2 separate regions of the Homo sapiens genome follow, and region 1 is linked to region 2. A link means that fine-mapping ties the variant in region 2 to the expression of a gene that starts in the linked region. Tissue or cell type: whole blood. Region 2 holds a variant in brackets; the other region holds the start of a gene. All regions are shown on one strand. Distances are between the middles of the regions.

Region 1 (10,855 bases), 46 kb before region 2:
TTGCCAGTGAGAGACTGTTTTTAAAGTTCTTTGATATTGGAAAATGCCCCTGGTCACTGAGAATCCCATGAGGTCGACATCAAAGGTCTCAAAATGATCTACTTGTCTCCAAACACAACATCTATAATTCAGCCTCTAGATCAGGGGCTCATAAGGACCTGGAAGGCTCATTACACGTGGTACTCTATGGAAAAAATGTCAGTGCTATGGAAGAGAACCCTGATAGAACATCATTAAAGTCTGGGAGAATTGCACCATTGAAGATGCCATCATTGTTATAGAAAAAGCTGCAAAAGCTATCAAGCACAAATTAATAAATTCCTGCTGGAGAAAATTGTGTCCAGATGTTGTGCATGACTTCATGGGATTTATGACAGAGCCAATTAAGGAAGTCATAAAAGAGATTGTGTATGTGGCAAAAAGGTGGGGGGTGAAAGGTTTCAAGATATGGATGTTGGAGAAATCCAAGAGCTGAGAGACACCACACCAGAGGAATTAACAGAAGACAAATTGGTAGAGATGAGTGCCTCTAAAGCAGTGCCAGACGATGAGGGAGAAGATGTAGAAGAGCCAGTGCCAGAAAACAAACTGACATTAGAACATCTGGCAGAAGAATTCCAGTTATTCAAGACTGCTTTTGACTTCATTTATGACATGGACCCTTCTATGATATGGGCACTGAAACCAAAGCAAATGGTGGAAGAAGGATTGGTACCACATAGAAACATTTTTAGAGCAATGAAAAAGCAAAAACGTCAGACAGAAATTACCACGTATTTCCATAAAATTACATCCACTATGCCTGCTTCTCCTGCCTCCCCTTCCACTTCCTCCACCTCTTCTGCTTCTGCCACCCCTGAGACGTCAATACCAACTCCTCTTCCTTCGTCTCCTCCTCAACCTACTCAATGTTAAGATGATGAGGATGAAGAATTTTATGGTAATCCACTTCCACTTAATGCATAGTAAATATATTTTGTTTTCCTTATAATTTTCTTAATACTATTTTCTTTCCTCTAGCTTACTTTATTGCAAGAATATAGTATATAATACACATAACATACAGAATATGTATCAATCGACTGTTTATGTTACCCATAAGGTTTCCAGTCAACAGTAGGTTATTAGTAGTTAAGCTTTTGGTGGAGTCAAAAGTCATATATGAATTTTTTACTACGTGGGGGGTTAGCACCCCTAACTCCAGCATTGGTAAGGGTCAACTCTATTTAGAAGTAATTCAGGTATTATAATTATAATGTTTATATTATAATACATAAATTATTAAGGATTAAATAATTTAATAATAATATAACAGTAACTATAATAAACACTATTAACTAAATTTTTATATGCCTCTCTCTATATATATAAAATATTTAATGTTCCTCTTTTAAAAAGGCACACAGCAGAAAAAAATTGTATACTGACCATTCAGCTCAGGGCAATTTTAATAGGAAATAACCTCATACATTTTAATTTTGGACCTACATGTTCAAGTTCTTCCTTGATTAACAGCAGAAAACAATATGTCCGGCAGAGGGCATCCCTCCATTGCTGCTCACAATGGAGGTTTGGAGATATAATTTTCTTTCACCTTTATGGGCAGGTCACCAGAATCTGGAACCCCTAGTCTATGTGAACGTCTACTGCCACTTTCCTAATGCCAACTGCCAGGATTCACAAGAATTTCCTGATCCTCAATTCCCTGTGATCCATCTGTCAGCTGTTAGACACTTGTGATACTGTATTTTAACTTCTATCAACCCCTTTCCAACTGCATGTGGCAATCTCCTTTAGGCTCTATTCTCTGGTCTTCTAACTTGATTTTTCTTCTCTGTGAAGAATCAAGTCTAGAATAATTTCCTAGCTCCTTTCTGGTGGTTGTGATTCTCCAGAGTGAAACAGGTTGTTACAGAATCTCGTCTTTAAAAAAACTACAATGACAAGAGAATGAAAAAACCAGCCACAGACTGGGATAAACTATTTGCAAAAGTAATACCTGATAAAAGACTGTTATTCAAAATACACAGAATACTTGAAACTCAACAATAAGAGAACAAACAACCCAATTAAAAAAATAAGCCAAAATCCTTAGCAGACACCTCCTCAAAGAAGATATACAGATGGCAAATAAGTATATATAAAGATGCTCCACCTCACATAATCTTGGGAAACGCAAACTAAAACTACAAAGTGATTCCACTACACACTTATTAGGATGACCAAAATCCAGAGAACAGATGCTGGTGAGAATGTGGACCAACAGAAACTCTCATTCATTGTTGGTAAGAATGCAAAATGGTACAGCTGCTTAGGAAGATTTGGTGGTTTCTTACAAAATAAAACATATCATTACCACATGATCCAGCAATCTTACTCCTTGGTATTTACCCAAATGAGTTGAAAGTGTAGTATGTTCATACAAAAACCTAAGCATGGATGCTTATAGCAGCCTTTTCCTAACTGCTAAAAGTTGGAAGCAACCAAGATGTTCTTCAGCAGGTGAATGGATAAATAAACCCTGGTATATCCAGATAATGAAGTATTATTTGACACTAAAAAGAAATGAGCTATCAAATCATTAAAAGACATGGCGCATATCACTAAGTAAAAGAAGCCAATCTGAAAAGGCTCCACACTATGTGATTCTAACTATATGACATTCTGGAAAAGGGAAAACTATGGAGGTAGTCAAAAGATTGGTGGTTGCCAGAGGTTATGAGGTAGGGAGAGATGAACAGATTACAGAGGATTTTGCTGGGAATGAAACTATACTATATGATGCCATAATATAGTAAGTACATGTCATTACACATTTGTTAAACTCCCTAAAATGTACAACACCGAGAATGAACTTTAATGTAAACTACGGCTTTTGGTAAATAATGATGTGCCAGTGTAGGCTAATCCGTTGTAACAATGTACCACTCTGATGTGGGATTTTGATGGTGGAAAAGGCTATGAGAGTGTGGGGATAGGGGATATATGAGAACTCTTTACTTCCTGGTAAATTTTGCTATGAGCCTAAAACTGCTCTAAAAATAACATCTATATAAAGACATTTTTTAAAAAATTAAAGGAATGAAAACCTTACAAAGTCCTTATTTCAGAAGACAAAAAAAAAAAGTCAATTCCTTCACCAGGACAACAGGATTTAACTACTGTAGACAGCCACTTACTCTCTTGAATAGAAAAATAATAAGAGGTGAGTGTCTAGGCTTTAAACTGCTTATTCATCATCTTGAACTAAGGAAAATAAGTCCTATGGAAAATGCATTTAAAGAAGGGGATGGATAGTGAAATACAAGGTCAGTAGGCAAACCCATTCCAATGTTTGGGTTGAAAGGGGCCATGAAAGACCTGTAACTGGGAGAACATGAGTGGGTTGTGGTTGCATGTCTGCATTAGGAACTATGTATTTCAGAGATAAGGAGTAAAGATCTGTTATCATCTGTTATCTGCTCCTGTATCTTAAGTCTAGTTGGTTTGGGAGCTTTTCTATATAATATAAATATATTATATAAGCCACACATATAAATTCTCCAGTAGGGACATTTAAAAACAAAAAAAGGTGAAAATAATGTGATAATAAATTTTACTTAACCCGATACATCCAAAATATTATCATTTCAACATGTAATCAATGTATAAAATTATTGATGGCATATTTCACTTTCTTTTTCCATATTAAATTTTTAAAATCTAATGTGTCTCTTACACTTGAGTATGTCTTAATTCATATGCTAAATGTTAATCAGAAATAATTAATCCTTAATTAGCTTTAATAACATTTACAGTTAAGTAGTAGATTCACATACTCAAGTTATCCCAGATTTTAAAAGTTTTACAATAACTCAATGGAGTATCAGTTTGAAAATCCAGATTTAAATTCATTAAAATTAAAAATTGAGCTCCTCAGTTGGACCAGCTACATTGCAAGAGCTCCATAGTCACTTATGCCTAGTAGCTACCATGTTGGACAACGAAATTCTAATTAGTTGATCATTTTATGTGAATAGATTGAAAAAACAGTACAATTCAGTAAAATGTGTTTGGCTATAATATTTTAATCCCTTATTGCAAGTAGGTAGCAAATAAATGAGGAAAAATCATTGCCACTGGAAAATATGGTAACTGGGTTAATGCCAGGGCACTACTCAATGATACCCAGTAAACAGCTTTTGTAGCCCTTATTCTAAAGGACACACACTGAACATGTGGTCAGGTGAAAGGAAACAGAACAATAGATGTGTCCATTATTACACTTTTCTGACTTTCACAGTCATGGTAAATAGCCTCGACGTTATAAGAATGGGATAAAAATCATATTCATTCTCAGATCTAGTAGAATTAAATATATAGTAAAACTGCCAAGTAAAGACTATCTATTTTGAAGAACTGACAGGTTGTTTAAATTAAGACAATACTTAAAGTATTAGAGGATACTTAAAAACTTAATATAATGTGAAAACAGTGGTTTAATGAAAACAAAATTCTTACGACAGCAAAATGCAGAATTTCGTCTTCGTTCAGTTCATTTTTCAATTTTCTGAATAAAGGTTGCATTGCTCTGCAAGGTCCACACCAGGCTTGGTAAACATCAATCACTAGAAGATGATGATATTTATGAAATAACAAAGTCTACCAATCTAGGATAGCAGTTATCCCAATCTGGAGCCATGGCCAGGGCAAAGGCACTGCAGGATTTCTTGGTCAAAGTGGGGACTCTAGAGGGACAGGGTGCCAGGAGGAGCTCCGGGTCAAACCCCAGGTGGCCAGACAGCCGGGGAGTCCTTATACCTGTTAAGCCTTTGTTCTGCAACATCTCATCCCACAGGCTTTGATTATTGATGACTGTCTGCAAAGTGGAAGGCACTGTAAAAGGTATTCAAGCACTAGTGCACCAGATAAAGAATTGTTGATATGTCAGACCCACCTGTAACTGGACTTCTCGTTTTTTGCTTGCCATTTATCTACTATCATAGGAAAAAGAAAGAAAAATTTTTAAGTAGGAAATTTAAATAACATTTTCTTTATGCATGCAAATAACATCTTTTAAAACAATTTTTAATTTTTGTGGGTACATAGTAGGTGTATATATTTATGTATCTCTGTATTTATGTACTTAAATATTTGTGTATTTAAATCTGAGATATTTTGATACAGGCATGCCATGCATAATAATCACATCAGGGTAAATGGGGTATCCATCACCTCAAGCATTTATCCTTTGTGTTACAAACAATCCAATTATACTCTTTTAGTTATTTTAAAATGTACAATTTAGATTTTTTGACTGCAGTCACCTGTTTGTGCTAGCAAATACTAGGTCTTATTCATTGTTCTTTTTTTTTTTTTTTTTTTTTGAGACATAGTCTCACTCTGTTGCCAGACTGGAGTGCAGTGGCACAATCTGGGCTCACTGCAACCTCCGTCTCCTGGGTTCAAGCGATTCTCCTGCCTCAGCCTCCAGAGTACCTGTGACTACAGGCACCCGCCACCACGGCGGGCTAATTTTTTTTGTATTTTTAGTAGATACAGAATTTCACCGTGTTAACCAGGATGGTCTCAACCTCCTGACCCGTGATCCTCCCACCTCAGCCTCCCAGAGTGCTGGGATTACAGTATTCATTCTTTCTAACTGCAAATAACATCTTAATGTACTAGTGAAAAATTTCCCCACTGTACATTGGATTATGCAGTGTCATCTTTGCTGGGGAGAGAGAAGCTAATGTCATGGAAGGACTATTGTATGCTAGGCTCTATGCTAAATGCTTATAGCTGCCACACTATCTTATCCTCCCAACAGTCCTGAAGCAAGGTAAGAATGTTAGGAGTTACACGTCGTCTGGTTTTTTTAAAGGTTTTGTTTTCCTGAAATATTAGAAAGTGTTTCCTATATTATCAATTGCAAACAAATGAACATGCCCGTGGATCTTTCTGGGGTCCCTCTTCAGATCTGGCTGCTCTAAGGATATTTAATCTTGAGAACAAGGCCACTAGTGTTTTCTGGGGCACGACATAAACTTCTCAAACTCCCTATTCAGTGGTATCAGGGGCGGTGTAGAACAGGGGTCAGTCAGCGTGCGGGCGATAGTGCACGCTAGCGTACAACAAAGGAAAAGCCACAAACAAGACTGTATTCCAGGAAAGGTGCTGGTTGCTCCGGCAAGCCTTACACAAAACAGGTCCTCCTCTAAGCTAGACTGGGACGTTTAAAGAAAAGGAAGGAACAGGCCCAGAGGATCTAAATCGGCTCCCTCGTTGTGGCCGTTTGAGCGGTGACCTCGGCGAAGTTCCATTCCAGTACCTAGGACCCTGGTAGGGCCCGAGGCTGAGGCTAGCAGGCCTCCTGCTGGGCTTTCTTCTCCAGCTGATTCAGCAAAAGGAAGAAGAGGGATTCCCTGCCTGTCTGGGAAGAAGAAGGGGGGCAATGTTTTGTCCAACCCATCTGCCCGTGAGACTTGAGCGGCGTCTCGAGGCCCCTGCTCCAGACAGCAGCTATACCTGGGCAGTGGGGACAAGACCAGGTGGCGCCTAAAATCCTCCACCTCTTCTGCCCACACAATGAAGGAACAACGAAGTCCTGGTTCCACCATCACAAGACTCTGTTCTTCAGCTGCCTCATCCCCAAACTCCCATCCCCCATCCTCCCATCCCTACGTTCCTCTATCCCCAGATGCGCACCAAGGTGCGCTTTCCCAAGTGCAGATTTGATCATATCTCTCCTCGCCTTTGAATCCTCCTGTGACTGGCCACGCTTTACAGCATAAAATGCATACACCTCAAATCGGAGCAGAAGGCTCTCTGCCAGCACCAGCCTTTTCTTTCTTTTTAACTTTGTCTTCATCTACCCTGGTTTGGTTCTTCTTGTTCTTCTTGTTCTTCTTCTTCTTCTTCTTCTTCTTCTTCTTCTTCTTCTTCTTCTTCTTCTTCTTCTTCTTCTTCTTGTTCTTCTTCTTCTTCTTCTTCTTCTTCTTCTTCTTCTTCCTTCTTCTTCTTCTTCTTCTTCTTCTTCTTCTTCTTCTTCTTCTTCTCTTCTTCTTCTTCTTCTTCTTCTTTCTTCTCTCTTCCTCTTCCTCTTCTTCTTCGTCTTCCTTCTTCTTTTCTTCTTCTTTTCTTCTTCTTCTTCTTTTCTTCTTCTTTTCTTCTTCTTCTTTCTTCTTCTTCCTTCTTCTTTTTCTTCTTCTTCTTTCTCTTCTTCTTCCTCTTCCTCTTCCTCTTCTTCCTCTCCCTCTTCCTCCTCCTCCTCCTCTTCCTCCTCTTCCTCCTCCTCCTCCTCCTCTTCTTCCTCCTCTTCCTCTTCTTCTTCTTCCTCTTCTTCTTCCTCTTCCTCTTCTTCCTCTTCCTCTTCCTCTTCTTTCTTCTTCTTCCTCTTCTTTCTTCTTCTTCTTCCTCTTCTTCTTCTTCTCCTTCTTTCTTCTTCTTCTTCCTCTTCCTCTTCTTCTCCTCCTCCTTCTCCTTCTCCTTCCTCTTCTCCTTCCTCTTCTCCTTCCACTTCTCCTTCCTCTTCTCCTTCCCCTTCCCCTCCTTCTCCTCCTCCTCCTCCGTCTCCTCCGTCTCCTCCATCTCCTTCATCTCCTTCTTCTTCTTCTTCTTCTCCTTCTCCTTCTCCTTCCTCTTCTCCTTCCTCTTCCCCTCCTTCTCCTCCTCCTCCGTCTCCTCCATCTCCTTCTCCTTCTCCTTCTTCTTTCTCCTTCTTCTTCTTCTTTCTTCTTCTTCTTTCTTCTTCTTCCTCTTCCTCTTCCTCTTCTTCTCCTCCTCCTCCTTCTCCTTCCTCTTCTCCTTCCACTTCTCCTTCCTCTTCTCCTTCCTCTTCTCCTTCCTCTTCCCCTCCTTCTCCTCCTCCTCCTCTGTCTCCTCTGTCTCCTCCGTCTCCTCCGTGTCCTTCGTCTCCTTCGTCTTCTTCTTCTTCTCCTTCTCCTTCCTCTTCTCCTTCCTCTTCTCCTTCCTCTTCCCCTCCTTCTCCTCCTCCTCCTCCGTCTCCTCCGTCTCCTCCGTCTCCTCCGTCTCCTTCTTCTTCTTCTTCTTCTTCTTCTTCTTCTTCTTCCTCTTCTTCTTCCTCTTCTTCTTCTTCCTCTTCTTTTTCTTTCTTTCTCTTTCGTTCTTTTTCTCTTTACTTTCCTTCCTCCCTCCCACTTGCAGCATCTGGAAATAATTTTTCACAATAGTTTCTGATTAATCCACAGGCTGAGATACAGAAAGCAACTGTAGAGTAGAGAGGGACACAATGAACCTTTTTGTAGGGATCCTCATCCCTGGAGTGGACCTAATAGATGAGCACGGCTACCTACAGAAGGATTTTTGACCAGGATCATATCCTATCAAGACAGGACATGTAGTACTCCTTCACTTCACCATCTGCAATTTTCTTTCCTTTTTTTTTTTTTATTATACTTTAAGTTCTGTGATACATGTGCAGAAAGTGCAGGTTTGTTACATAGATATACACATACCATGGTGGTTTGCTGCACCCATCAACCTGTCATCTACATTAGGTATTTCCCCTAATGCTATCCCTCCCCTAGCCCCCCACCCCCTGACAGGCCCCAGTGTGTGATGTTTCCCTCCCTATGCCCACGTGTTCTCATTGTTTAACTTCCACTTATGAGTGAGAACATGCGGTGTTTGGTTTTCTGTTCTTGTGTTAGTTTGCTGAGAATGATGGTTTCCAGCTTCATCCATGTCCCTGCAAAAAACATGAACTCGTCGTTTTTTATGGCTACATAGTATTCCATGGTATATATGTGCCACATTTTCTTTATCCAATCTATCGTTGATGGGCATTTGGGTTGGTTCCAAGTCTTTGCTATTGTGAATAGTGCTCCAATAAACATACATGTGCATGTGTCTTTATAATAGAATGATTTATAATCCTTTGGATATATACCCAGTACTGGGATTGCTGGGTCAAATGGTAACAAAAGCCAAAATTGACAAATGGGATCTAATTAAAGAGCCTCTGCACAGCCAAAGAAACTATCATCAGAGTAAACAGGCAACCTAGAGAATGGGGGAAAATTCTTGCAATCCATCTATCTGACAAAGGGCTAATATCCAGAATCTACAAGGAACTTAAACAAATTTACAAGAAAAAAACAAACAGCCCCATCCAAAAGTGGGCAAAGGATATGAACAGACACTTCTCAAAAGAAGATATTTGTGAGGCCAACAAACACATGAACAAAAGTTTTTCATCACTGGTCATTAGAGAAATGCAAATCGAAACCACAATGAGATACCATCTCACACTAGTTAGAATGGCGATCATTAAAAATAGTCAGGAAACAACAGATGCTGGAGAGGATGTGGAGAAATAGGAACGCTTTTACACGGTTGGTGGGAGTGTAATTATTTCAACCATTGTGGAAGACAGTGTGGCGATTCCTCAAGGGTCTAAAACCATCTGCTATTTTCAAAGAAGTTTTATGTATTTCCTATAATTGCTATTTCACCAGAGTCAGACTGTTAGTAAACTGACTTTTGATTCTTCTTTGATTCAACACAATAGTTCACATGGTGAAATGCTCATGCAAATATTTCAGGCAAATTCTTCATATAACACTTTGATGCAAGAAGTTTCAATGTATTCTCAAATTAGAACAAACATTTACCAGTGGCCAATACATGGAAGGAAGGTGTAATTAGTTTTTTTTGTTTTTTTGTTTTTTTACATCATTACTACTAATTGCAAAAACTTTGAATGTTGAGGCTTTAAAACATAAACCTGAAGAGCCTTTGACTTGGGTCTGCCCAGAATTGACTTTAAGGGCAAATTCTCTGAAAATGTTGGTTACAAGACAATGTATATTTTATTATAGGAGAGTGTAAGCTATAACTGCCAAAAAGCCTATGAGAGATGTTACTTTTGAAGGGACCTAATAGTTTGTTTTGCTCCTTAAATATATTTGACTTTATCTTTCAACATTCATTAAAGGTACTCTCTTATATTGACCTGCCTTTTCTTACCCTCACACAGCACTATGTATAGTGCTCAATTTGCTTTCCTTGGGGCACAAGTTTATTAGTGCCTAATTGTTTCATTTGTGTGTTCTCATGACTTCTAAATATATATGAAGACCCAGAAAATAAGAACTGGATTGTAGAATTGTTTTCGCTTTGCTCTCTTCCTCTTGAAATCCTCTCTGGCACCTAGCATCACCATTTTTGCATAAACACTTTAAAATTAGATAGCAAGCTAGTGCATTTGGAAATAGCAGATATTCTTGACACATTTATGTACTCTTTAATGAAGATAAACAAAATTCTTAATTTTTGAATCCAAGAAATCTGTCTGGTGATTTCTCAAAGAATTTAAAATGGAGAGAGCTACAATTTGACCCAGCAATCTTATTGGATATACACCCAAAGGAAAGTAAATTACTCTACCAAAAAGACAATGCATTCATATGTTCATCACTGAGCTATTCACAATAGCAAAGACATGGAATCAATCCAGGTGCTCATCAATGGTACACTGGATAAAGAAAATGTGTATATAAACATATACACCATGGAATACTACGCAGCCATTAAAAAGAATGAAATCATATCCTTTGCAGCAACATGGATGCAATTAGAGGTTATAGTCTTAAATGAATTAATGTGGGAACAGAAAACCAAATACTGCATGTTGTTCCTTGTAAGTGGAAGCTAAACACTGAGCACACATGGACATAAATATTGGAACAATAGACCTGCAGATTACTATAAGTGGGAGACAACGAGGGAGACGTGGGTTGAAAAACTACTTACCAAGTACTATGCTCATTACCTGAGTGATGGGATTTGTACCCAAAACCTCAGCATCATGCAATATTCTCATGCAATAAATCTGCACGTGTACCCCTCATTT
Region 2 (10,855 bases):
CAACAGTGTAAAAGTGTTCCTATTTCTCCACATCCTCTCCAGCACCTGTTGTTTCCTGACTTTTTAATGATTGCCATTCTAACTGGTGTGAGATGATCTCTCATTGTGGTTTTGATTTGCATTTCTCTGATGGCCAGTGACGGTGAGCATTTTTTCATGTGTTTTTTGGCTGCATAAATATCTTCTTTTAAGAAGTGTCTGTTCATGTCCTTCGCCCACTTTTTGATGGGGTTGTTTGTTTTTTTCTTATAAATTTGTTTGAGTTCATTGTAGATTCTGGATATTAGCCCTTTGTCAGATAAGTAGGTTGCGAAAATTTTCTCCCATTTTGTAGGTTGCCTGTTCACTCTGATTGTAGTTTCTTTTGCTGTGCAGAAGCTCTTTAGTTTAATTAGATCCCATTTGTCAATTTTGGCTTTTGTTGCCATTGCTTTTGGTGTTTTAGACATGAAGTCCTTGCCCATGCCTATGTCCTGAATAGTAATGCCTAGGTTTTTTCTAGGGTTTTTATGATTTTAGGTCTAACATTTAAGTCTTTAATCCATCTTGAATTGATTTTTGTATAAGGTGTAAGGAAGGGATCCAGTTTCAGCTTTCTACATATGGCTAGCCAGTTTTCCCAGCACCATTTATTAAATAGGGAATCCTTTCCCCATTGCTTGTTTTTCTCAGGTTTGTCAAAGATCAGATAGTTGTAGATATGCGGCGTTATTTCTGAGGGCTCTGTTCTGTTCCATTGATCTATATCTCTGTTTTGGTACCAGTACCATGCTGTTTTGGTTACTGTAGCCTTGTAGTATAGTTTGAAGTCAGGTAGCGTGATGCCTCCAGCTTTGATCTTTTGGCTTAGGATTGACTTGGCAATGCAGGCTCTTTTTTGGTTCCATATGAACTTTAAAGTAGTTTTTTCCAATTCTGTGAAGAAAGTCATTGGTAGTTTGATGGGGATGGCATTGAATCTATAAATTACCTTGGGCAGTATGGCCATTTTCACGATATTGATTCTTCCTACCCATGAGCATGGAATGTTCTTCCATTTGTTTGTATCCTCTTTTATTTCCTTGAGCAGTGGTTTGTAGTTCTCCTTGAAGAGGTCCTTCATGTCCCTTGTAAGTTGGATTCCTAGGTATTTTATTCTCTTTGAAGCAATTGTGAATGGGTGTTCACTCATGATTTGGCTCTCTGTTTGTCGTTATTGGTGTGTAAGAATGCTTGTGATTTTTGTACATTGATTTTGTATCCTGAGACTTTGCTGAAGTTGCTTATCAGCTTAAGGAGATTTTGGGCTGAGACAATGGGGTTTTCTAGATATACAATCATGTCGTCTGCAAACAGGGACAATTTGACTTCCTCTTTTCCTAATTGAATACCCTTTATTTCCTTCTCCTGCCTGATTGCCCTGGCCAGAACTTCCAACACTATGTTGAATAGTAGTGGTGAGAGAGGGCATCCCTGTCTTGTGCCAGTTTTCAAAGGGAATGCTTCCAGTTTTTGCCCATTCAGTATGATATTGGAAAGTCAACAAGGATACCCAGGAATTGAACTCAGCTCTGCACCAAGCGGACCTAATAGACATCTACAGAACTCTCCACCCCAAATCAACAGAATATACATTTTTTTCAGCACCACACCACACCTATTCCAAAATTGACCACATAGTTGGAAGTAAAGCTCTCCTCAGCAAATGTAAAAGAACAGAAATTATAACAAACTATCTCTCAGACCACAGTGCAATCAAACTAGAACTCAGGATTAAGAAACTCACTCAAAACCGCTCAACTACATGGAAACTGAACAACCTGCTCCTGAATGACTACTGGGTACATAATGAAATGAAGGCAGAAATAAAGATGTTCTTTGAAACCAATGAGAACAAAGACACAACATACCAGAATCTCTGGGACACATTCAAAGCAGTGTGTAGAGGGAAATTTATAGCACTAAATGCCCACAAGAGAAAGCAGGAAAGATCCAAAATTGACACCCTAACATCACAATTAAAAGAACTAGAAAAGCAAGAGCAAACACATTCAAAAGCTTGCAGAAGGCAAGAAATAACTAAAATCAGAGCAGAACTGAAGGAAATAGATGCAAAAAACCCTTCAAAAAATTAATGAATCCAGGAGCTGTTTTTTTGAAAGGATCAACAAAATTGATAGACCGCTAGCAAGACTAATAAAGAAAAAAAGAGAGAAGAATCAAATAGACGCAGTAAAAAATGATAAAGGGGATATCACCACCAATCCCACAGAAATACAAACTACCATCAGAGAATACTACAAACACCTCCATGCAAATAAACTGGAAAATCTAGAAGAAATGGATAAATTCCTAGACAAATACACTCTCCCAAGACTAAACCAGGAAGAAGTTGAATCTCTGAATAGGCCAATAACAGGAGCTGAAATTGTGGCAATAATCAATAGCTTACCAACGAAAAAGAGTCCAGGACCAGATGGATTCACAGCCGAATTCTACCAGAGGTACAAGGAGGAACTGGTACCTTCCTTCTGAAACTATTCCAATCAATAGAAAAAGAGGGAATCCTCCCTAACTCATTTTATGAGGCCAGCATCATCCTGATACCAAAGCCGGGCAGAGACAGAACTGAAAAAGAGAATTTTAAACCAATATCCTTGATGAACATTGATGCAAAAATCCTCAATAAAATACTGGCAAACCGAATCCAGCAGCACATCAAAAAGCTTATCCACCATGATCAAGTGGGCTTCATCCCTGGGATGCAAGGCTGGTTCAATATACGCAAATCAATAAATGTAATCCAGCATATAAACAGAACCAAAGACAAAAACCACATGATTATCTCAATAGATGCAGAAAAGGCCTTTGACAATATTCAACAACCCCTCATGCTAAAAACTCTCAATAAATTAGGTATTGATGGGACGTATCTCAAAATAATAAGAGCTATCTATGAGTCCTGTTTCTTTATCCAATTTGCCAGTCTGCCTTTGAAGTGAGGTGTTTAGCCTGTTTACATTCAAGGTTAATATTGATGTGTGCTGATTTGATCCTGTCATCATGTTCTTGGTTGTTAGGTAGACTTGATTGTGTAGTTGCTTTACAGTGTAAATAGTCTATGTACTTAAGTATGTTTTTGTGGTGGCCATTAGTGGTCTTTCACTTCCATATTTAGCACTCCCTTAAGCAACTCTTGTAAGGCGGGTCTAGTGGTAACTAATTCCCTTAGCATTTGCTTATCTGAAAAAGATTTTATTTCTCGTTCACTTATGAAGCTTAGTTTGGCTGGATATGAAATTCTTGCTTGGAATTTCTTTTCTTTAAGAATGCTGAATATAGGCCCCCAATCTCTTCTGACTTGTAGGGTTTCTGCTGAAAGGTCTATTGTTAATGTTGTGGGGTTCCCTTTATAGTTAACCTGCCCCTTCTTTCTAGCTGCCTTAACATAATTTCTTTTGCATTGACCTTGAAGAATCTGATGACTATGTGTCTTGGGGATGTTTGTCTTGTAAAGTAGCTCACAGAGGTTCTCTGAATTTCCTGAATTTGAATGTTGACTTATCTAGTGAGGTTGGAGACATTTTTGTGGATAATATCCTCAAATTTGTTTTCTATGTTGCTTGGTCTCTCTCTCTCTCTCTTTCAGGGGTGCCAATGTGTTGTAGGTTTGGTCTCTATACACAGTCCCACATTCCTCAAAGGTTTTGTTCATTTTAAAAATTCTTTGTTGTTTTATTTTTGTCTGACTAAAATAGTTTGAAATTAAAATAATTTGAAGAACTGTGCTTTGAGCTCTGAGATTCATTTCTCAGCTTGGTCTATTCCACTGTTAATACTTCTGATTGTGTCATGAAATTCTTTTAGTGAGTTTCTCAGCCCTATCAGATCAGTTTTGTTCTTTCTTAAAATACCTATTTTGCCTTTCACCTCTTGAATCACTTTACTGGATTTCTTAGATTCCTTGGATTGAGTTTCAATTTTCTCCTGAATCTCAATGATCTTCAATGCTATCCAGATTCTTAATTCTATGTCTGTCATTTTAGCCATTTCATTCTGGTTGAGAACCATCACTGGTGAAGCGGCATCATTGTCTGGGGTAAATAACCAAGGTTCATCATCTCATGCCAAGGAAATCAAGTATGCATATGCAAGAGGTAGGTTTAGGGGCGGAGGTTTAACAGGCAAAAGAAAGAAAAAGGAGAACACTTCTCTCTCCTGCTTTAGAGAGGGGTGCCCAAATGGGACTTCTGGCCCACAGTGGAGTGCTCAGGATTTTATAAAAAAGCTTGAGGAGGCGGTGTCTGATTTACATAGGACCCAAAGATTGATTAGACTAGGGTGACATTTACATAGCATGTGAGGAAGCTGGCTTCCCCACCCTAATCTTATTATGCAAATGGGATATTTGCCCTGTCAGCGCCATGTTGTCTTCGCCTTACTGTACATATGGTTTGGCAAAGAAAAGGAAAGAAGGAGCTGACATTTTGAACATGCCTAGTCCCCAGGTAGCTCCTTTCCTACTGGCATAGCTGCCATCACTTCCCCGTGCAAACTTCTAGCTTGCCTTTCTATGTCTGCAGCTCGATTTTACAGGTTGCTCTTTGTTAGAAAAGAAAATGATTTGGGGGCTGCTTTTCATTAAAAGGAAAACCTTACTAAAGACTTTCTTACCTCACTGTCTGCCTAAGTAATTTCTTTTTAACTCCTACATCATTGAGGAGCTAGTGTGGTCATTTGGGAATAAGAAAACACTCTGGCTTTTAGAGTTCCCTGCGTTTTTGCTCATCTGTGTGGGCTGATGTGCCTTTAACTGTGGTGTAATTTGAGTACAGTCAGTTGAATTTGTTTCTGGATGTTTTCAGAGGGCTGATGCTTTGTGCAGGGTCTTTATTTGTGGCTGAATTCTTGTCCTTAATTTTATGGGGAGGTATGTTAGCAATGTATTTTTGGTGTTAAAGTTTGGGCTTCCATCCAGTAGATGGCACTTAACCGTAATGGCTGGTAGATAGGCTCTTACCCAGCCACATGGTTCCTCTGTATTTCCTCAATTGCAGCTATGCTCTCTCTCAGTGCTCTGAGAGTGTGGGCCCCTCTCCCACTCAAGTGTTGGCCATATATCTCAGCTTGGCACTCCCAGGCTGTGCACTGTAGCCCCTTTGTGAACTCAAGCTTTTTGTTCTCTCCCTAGCTTGGGGGTGGCAGGGGTGGGGACCTTGACAGTGGCAATGGCAGAGGGCCTTTCACTTGTCTTTGAAGGATTCACCCCAGAGAAGCACAGAGCTGCTACCAATCAAAATGATCAGCTGGGGGTGGGGCAGCTGCATTGTGGGCCTCAAGCCAGGCGGCCCTTCCC[G/A]GTGAAGAGCTGGAGGATTGGAGGCTTGCTGTAAAATCAGTCTGGCCTCTTCTCCATAGAGCAGCTGTGGCATGGAGGTGTGAATAAAGCACTCGGGCTCTTTGTTCCTTGCCCAGTCTGGTGGCAGCAAGGGTGGGCATCCACTGCAGTGGCAGTTATAGGGGGCTGTCAGTTGCCTCGGGGAACTCCACCCCAGAAAGACATGGAGCTGCTGCCAATGAGAACATTCAGGTGGAAGTAGGATGGCTGTGCTGCAGGTCCAAGCCAGGGGATGAAGAGCAGAGAGGTCAGGGGCTCACCAGGAAGACAGACTGGACTCCTTTGAATATGGTGGCTTCAGTGTGCTGGAGGTACAAGCAAAACAATCAGTGTCTTCATTCACTCCACAGCACAGTTTGTTTAAAATAATAATAGCAACTATGCATTCAATTATGTATACTTATGTGTATATCTTATGCATATATGTCTATCTGTGCTTATATATGCTTACATACAAGTAAAATGAATGACAGCAGTGATACAAGGGATAGAAGGGAGGAGTTTGAATTATTTTGTTATTATAAGGTACCTGCACTAGCTGTGAAATAGTACAGTGTTTTTGGAAGTTGCCTTGAAATAGTTATACATGTATATTGCAAACTCTAAGGCAACCACTAAAATAAGTGAAAAAAGGCATAACTGATATGCTAAGAGAGGAGAGAATATGGAAACATATAAAGTGTTCAATTAAAACCACAAAAGGCAGAGAAAGAGTGAAAGACAAAATAAGAACAAAGAACCAAAAACAACAAATAGAAAACACTAAATATGGTAAATATTAATTCAACTATATCAATAATCACTTTCAATGTCAATGGTATAAAATAACCAGTTGAAAGACAGAGATTGGCAGAGTGGATGAAAAAAAAATGACACAACTACATGTTGTCTACAAGAAACCCACTTTAAATATAATGACACATAGATTAAAAGTAGATGGATGGGCCAGGTGTGGTGGCTCACACCAGTAATCCCAGCACTTTTGGAGGCCAAGACAGGGGGACTGCTTGAGTTCAGGAGTTCGAGACCAGCCTGGGCAACATAGTGAGACCTTGTCTCCATTAAAAAAAAAAAAAAACAAAAAAAACCTGCATGTGGTGGGATGTGCCTGTAGTCCCAGCTACTTAAAAGGCTGAGGCAGGAGAATCACTTGAGCCCAGGAGGTTGAGGCTGCAGTGAGCCATGATCACTCCAGCTTGGGTAACAGAGCAAAAACTTGCCAAAAAAAAAAAAAAAAAGAGAGAGAGAGAGAAAGAAAGGGAAGGGATGGAAAGGAAAGGGAAGCGAAGGGAAGGGAAGGGAAAAGGAGAAATATGCCATACTAACACTAATGAAAACAAAGCAGGAATCACTGTATTAATTTCAGGCACAATGGACTTCAAAACAAGGAAAGTTAGGAAGGGTAAAGAAGGACATTACTTAATAATAAAGAAATCAATTACCCAAAAAGACAGAACAATCCTTAACATGTATGTGCCTAACAGAGTAAAAATACATGAGGCAAAAACTAATTATGCTGGAAGGAGAAATAGGTTAATCTACCATTATGGAGGAAGATTTCAGTACCTCCTATCAGAAATGAACAGATCCAGCAGGCACAAAATCAGCAAGGACATAGTTTTACTCAACAGCAACATCAATCATCTGGACATCTGTAACTCTCTACAACAACAGCCGAATATACTTTCTTCTCAAGCTCATGTGAAATATTAACCAAAATAGACCACATTCTTGGCCATAAAGCACATTTTAAGAGATCAAAGATAATAGAAATGTCATGTAATATCTGGTGTATATCACAGTGAAATTAAACTAGAAATCAATAACAGAAAGATAATTGGAAAATCCTAAACTACATGGAAATCAAACAAAATTAAATAACACATGAGTCAAAAGAGAAATTTCAAAAGAAATTTAAAAATTTTTGAACTAAATTGAAATGAAAACACAACTTATAAATGTTTGAGGGGTGCAGGAGAAGCAGTTCTTAAAGGGAAATTTATAGCATTGAATGCATATATTAGAAAAGAAGGGAGATCTAATATCAATCATCTAAGCTTCTATCTTAGGAAACTAGAAAAGGAAGAGCAAATTAAATTCAAGGTAATCAGAAAAAAAGAAATAATGAAAATTACAACATAAATCAACACAGTTGAAGATAGGAAATTAACAGGAAAAAATCAATGAAACCCAATGCTCGTTCTCTGAAAAGACCTAGAAAATAGGTAAGATTCTAGCTAGGTCAATCAAAAAAAAAAATTCTTCATATCAGAAGTGAAAGAGGAGACATCACTGGAGATCCCATAGACAATAAAAGGATAATCAAGAAATATTATAATCAACTGCATGAACACAAATTTGATAAGGTAGACGAAAGGGACCAAGTCCTTGAAAGACACAATCTGACAAAGCAAGAAGAAAGAGGCAATCTAAATAGGACTATATCTATTAAAGAAATTGAATCAATAATTAATAATATTTCAAAACAGAGAGCACCAGGCCCAGATGGGTTCACTGTTAAATTTTACCATACATTTAAGGAAGAAATTATACCAATCCTCTACAATCTCTTCCAGAATATAGAAACAGAGGGAATACTTCCTAACTCATTGTATGAGGTCAACATCACCATAATAGTCAAACCAGACAAAGGCACTGCAAGAAAACAGAACTACAGACCAATATCTCTTATGATCATAGACGCAAAAGTCCTCAGCAGAATATTAACAAATCAAATCCAGCAATGAATAACAAGAATTATATATCACACCCATAGTGAGATTTATCCCTGGTGGGCAACTGGTTCGACATTCAAAAATTAATTAATGTAATTCATCACATCAGCAATCTAAAGAAGAAAAATCACATGATGATATCAATGGATACATAAAAATCATTATAAATTTCAAGATGCTTTCACAATAAAGCTGTCAGTAAACTAGGAATAGAGGACACTAGATAAGGAATATTGAAGGGTGACATAACACGCCACCTCAAAATATGCCACTTTGACATAGTATTACTTCAGACTAAAGGCACTTAAAAAACATCATTTGCAAGAAGGCATTCTAATCTTCCCCTTTTCTTCCTGAAAACAGAAGAGAAAAACTCATAGGGAAGATGCCCCCTCTATAGCAGGAGAAAAGAAACATCCTTCAATAGAGAATCATATCCAGAGAATTCTGGGCAAACAAATCCTGTTAAAATAATTCTACCTTTTCTACCTTCCATTAGCCTCCCCATATAATTTAGTTACTTTTCCATGACTACCTCTCTTTGTTCAACCTAATATAAAAGCATACAAACTCGCCACTTCTTTGGATCATCATTTCCTTATGAGGACTCCATATCATGTAAAATTTAAATTCAATTTGTATGCTTCTCTCCCATTACTCTCTTAAGTCAATTTAATTCTCAGGCTTAACTGGGACTTTACAAGGGTAGAGGTAAAATTTTGCCTCCCCTACAATATTTATCAAAAAACTGACAGCTAACATTACACGTAACGATAAGAAATGAGAAACTTTCCCACTAAGATTGTGAACACGGCAAGGATGGTCTTCTTACCACTTCTTTTCAGTATCATACTGGAAGTCCTAGCTAACCAAATAAACGAAGTTTTTTTTTAAAGCATACTGACGGGCAAGGAGAAATAAAAACCATCTTTGTTCACAAATGACAGTCATCTATGTAGAAAGTCAGAAAGAACAAACCAGATAATAAAACCTCCTAAAACTAATAAGCACAGCAAGGCTGCAGGATGCATGGGTATTATACAAAAGTCAATCTGTTTTCTATATACCAGTAATGAAAGGTGGAATTTTAAATTAAAAACGCAATAACATTTACATTTGTGCCCCCCAAAATGATACACTTTTGTGTAAATCTAACAAAATATGTGCAAGATCTACATGAGGAAAGCTGATGAAAGAAATCAAAGAGGAGCCCAGTAAATGAAGAGATATTCTGTGTTTACGGAGAGGCAGACTCAATATTGTCAGGACATCAGTTCTTCCTAACTTGATTTATAGGATCAACACAATCCCAATTAAAATTCCAGCAAGTTATTTTGTGGATATCAACAAAGTTATTCTAAGATTTATGTGGAAAGGCAAAAGACCCAGAATAGCCAGCACAATGAAGGAGAAGCACAAAATTGGAGGATGAAGAGTGCCTGACTTTAAGACATATTACAAAGCTATAGTAATTAAGTTTGTGTGGTACTGGCAAAAGTATAGGCAAACAGATCAATGAAAAAGAGAGGCCAGAAATAGACCCACATAAATAGAGTCAATTGATCTTTGACAAAGAAGAAAATGCAATGCAATGAAGAAATGCTAGCCTTTTCAACAAATGTTGCTGAAACAATTGGACATCCACATGCAAAAAATATGAATCTAGATTCAGATTTCACACCCTTCGCAAAAGCTAATTCAAAATGGATCACATACGTAAATGTAAAACACAAAAGTTTAAAACTACCAGAAGATAACATAGGAAAAAATCTACATTACCCTGGGTTTGGTGACTACTTTTTAAAGACAGCACCAAAGTCAGAATCCATAAAAGAAAGAAAGCTAGAATAGATAAATAGAAAGAAAAGTAGATGATTGATAGCTAGCTAGATATAATGGGTTAAACAAATTATATTATTATTATTGTGGATTTTGCCTCTTCCTTTTAAAATTTTTAATATGGTAAGTAGAAAATTTTAAATAATACATGTGGCAATTATCTATTTTTATGTAACAAATAATCCTAGAATCTAGTGGTTTAAAGCAACGATTTCTCTCATAATTGTGTGGATCAGGAATTTAGGCAGTATTGAGTGGGCAATTCTTCTGCGCCATGTTGTGTGGGCTGAGGTCAGATAGTGGTATTCCCATGGCAGATAGGTTGTTCTGGAGGGCCCAAGACAGCTTCTTCGTTTACGTGCCTGGTGCCTTCACTGGAAGTCTGGCTATATCTGGGCACATCTCCATGTATCTCCATGTAATCTCAGGCATCTCTAGATGTTCTGCAGCATGCAAGTCAGACTTCTTTCATGGAGTTCAGGCTCCAAGAACCCATGCTTCAAGAGACAGGAAGCGGAGGTTGCTAGTTTCTTAAAACCTGCAGCTGAGAATTGGCACAGCACCACTTTCCTTGTGTTCTATTGGTTGAAGCAATAACAAATTCCACCCATAGTAAATTATAGGAGATATAAATTCCACCTCTCAATTGGAGCAGTTTCAAAGAATTTGTGCCCATTTTCAATTTATCAACTTAATCCAGTGCAGTGGTTCTCAGATTTTAGCCTGCATCAAAATCACCTGGAGGGCTTGTTGAACCTCTAACCCACACCCAGAATTTCTGAATCAGTGGGTCTCAGGTGGAGCTCCACTGATTTTTCCTTCTTAGAATTTTCACTTCTAACAAGGTCATAGGTGCTACTGCTGCTGGTAGTGATGGTCCAGGGCCACATATGGAGAACCAATGGTC

The links. PIP is the estimated chance that this variant, and not a neighbour inherited with it, causes the effect.
Region 1: it holds the start of NME8, and the variant in region 2 is fine-mapped to the expression of NME8 in whole blood (TOPMed, PIP above 0.99).

What each region holds. Positions count from the first base shown.
Region 1 is chr7:37,844,381-37,855,235 of GRCh38, reverse strand. It overlaps NME8 (NME/NM23 family member 8), which reads right to left and starts at 6,639. Exons shown (of 18, transcript NM_016616.5): 1 at 6,508-6,639; 2 at 6,180-6,412; 3 at 4,937-4,976; 4 at 4,801-4,858; 5 at 4,501-4,607. The coding sequence starts at 4,969.
Region 2 is chr7:37,798,619-37,809,473 of GRCh38, reverse strand. No RefSeq gene overlaps it. Among named protein-coding and RNA genes, the nearest start is that of NME8, 45 kb to the left of the region's middle. RefSeq lists an enhancer at 5,364-5,864. The variant G/A (reference allele first, on the strand shown) is at 5,336.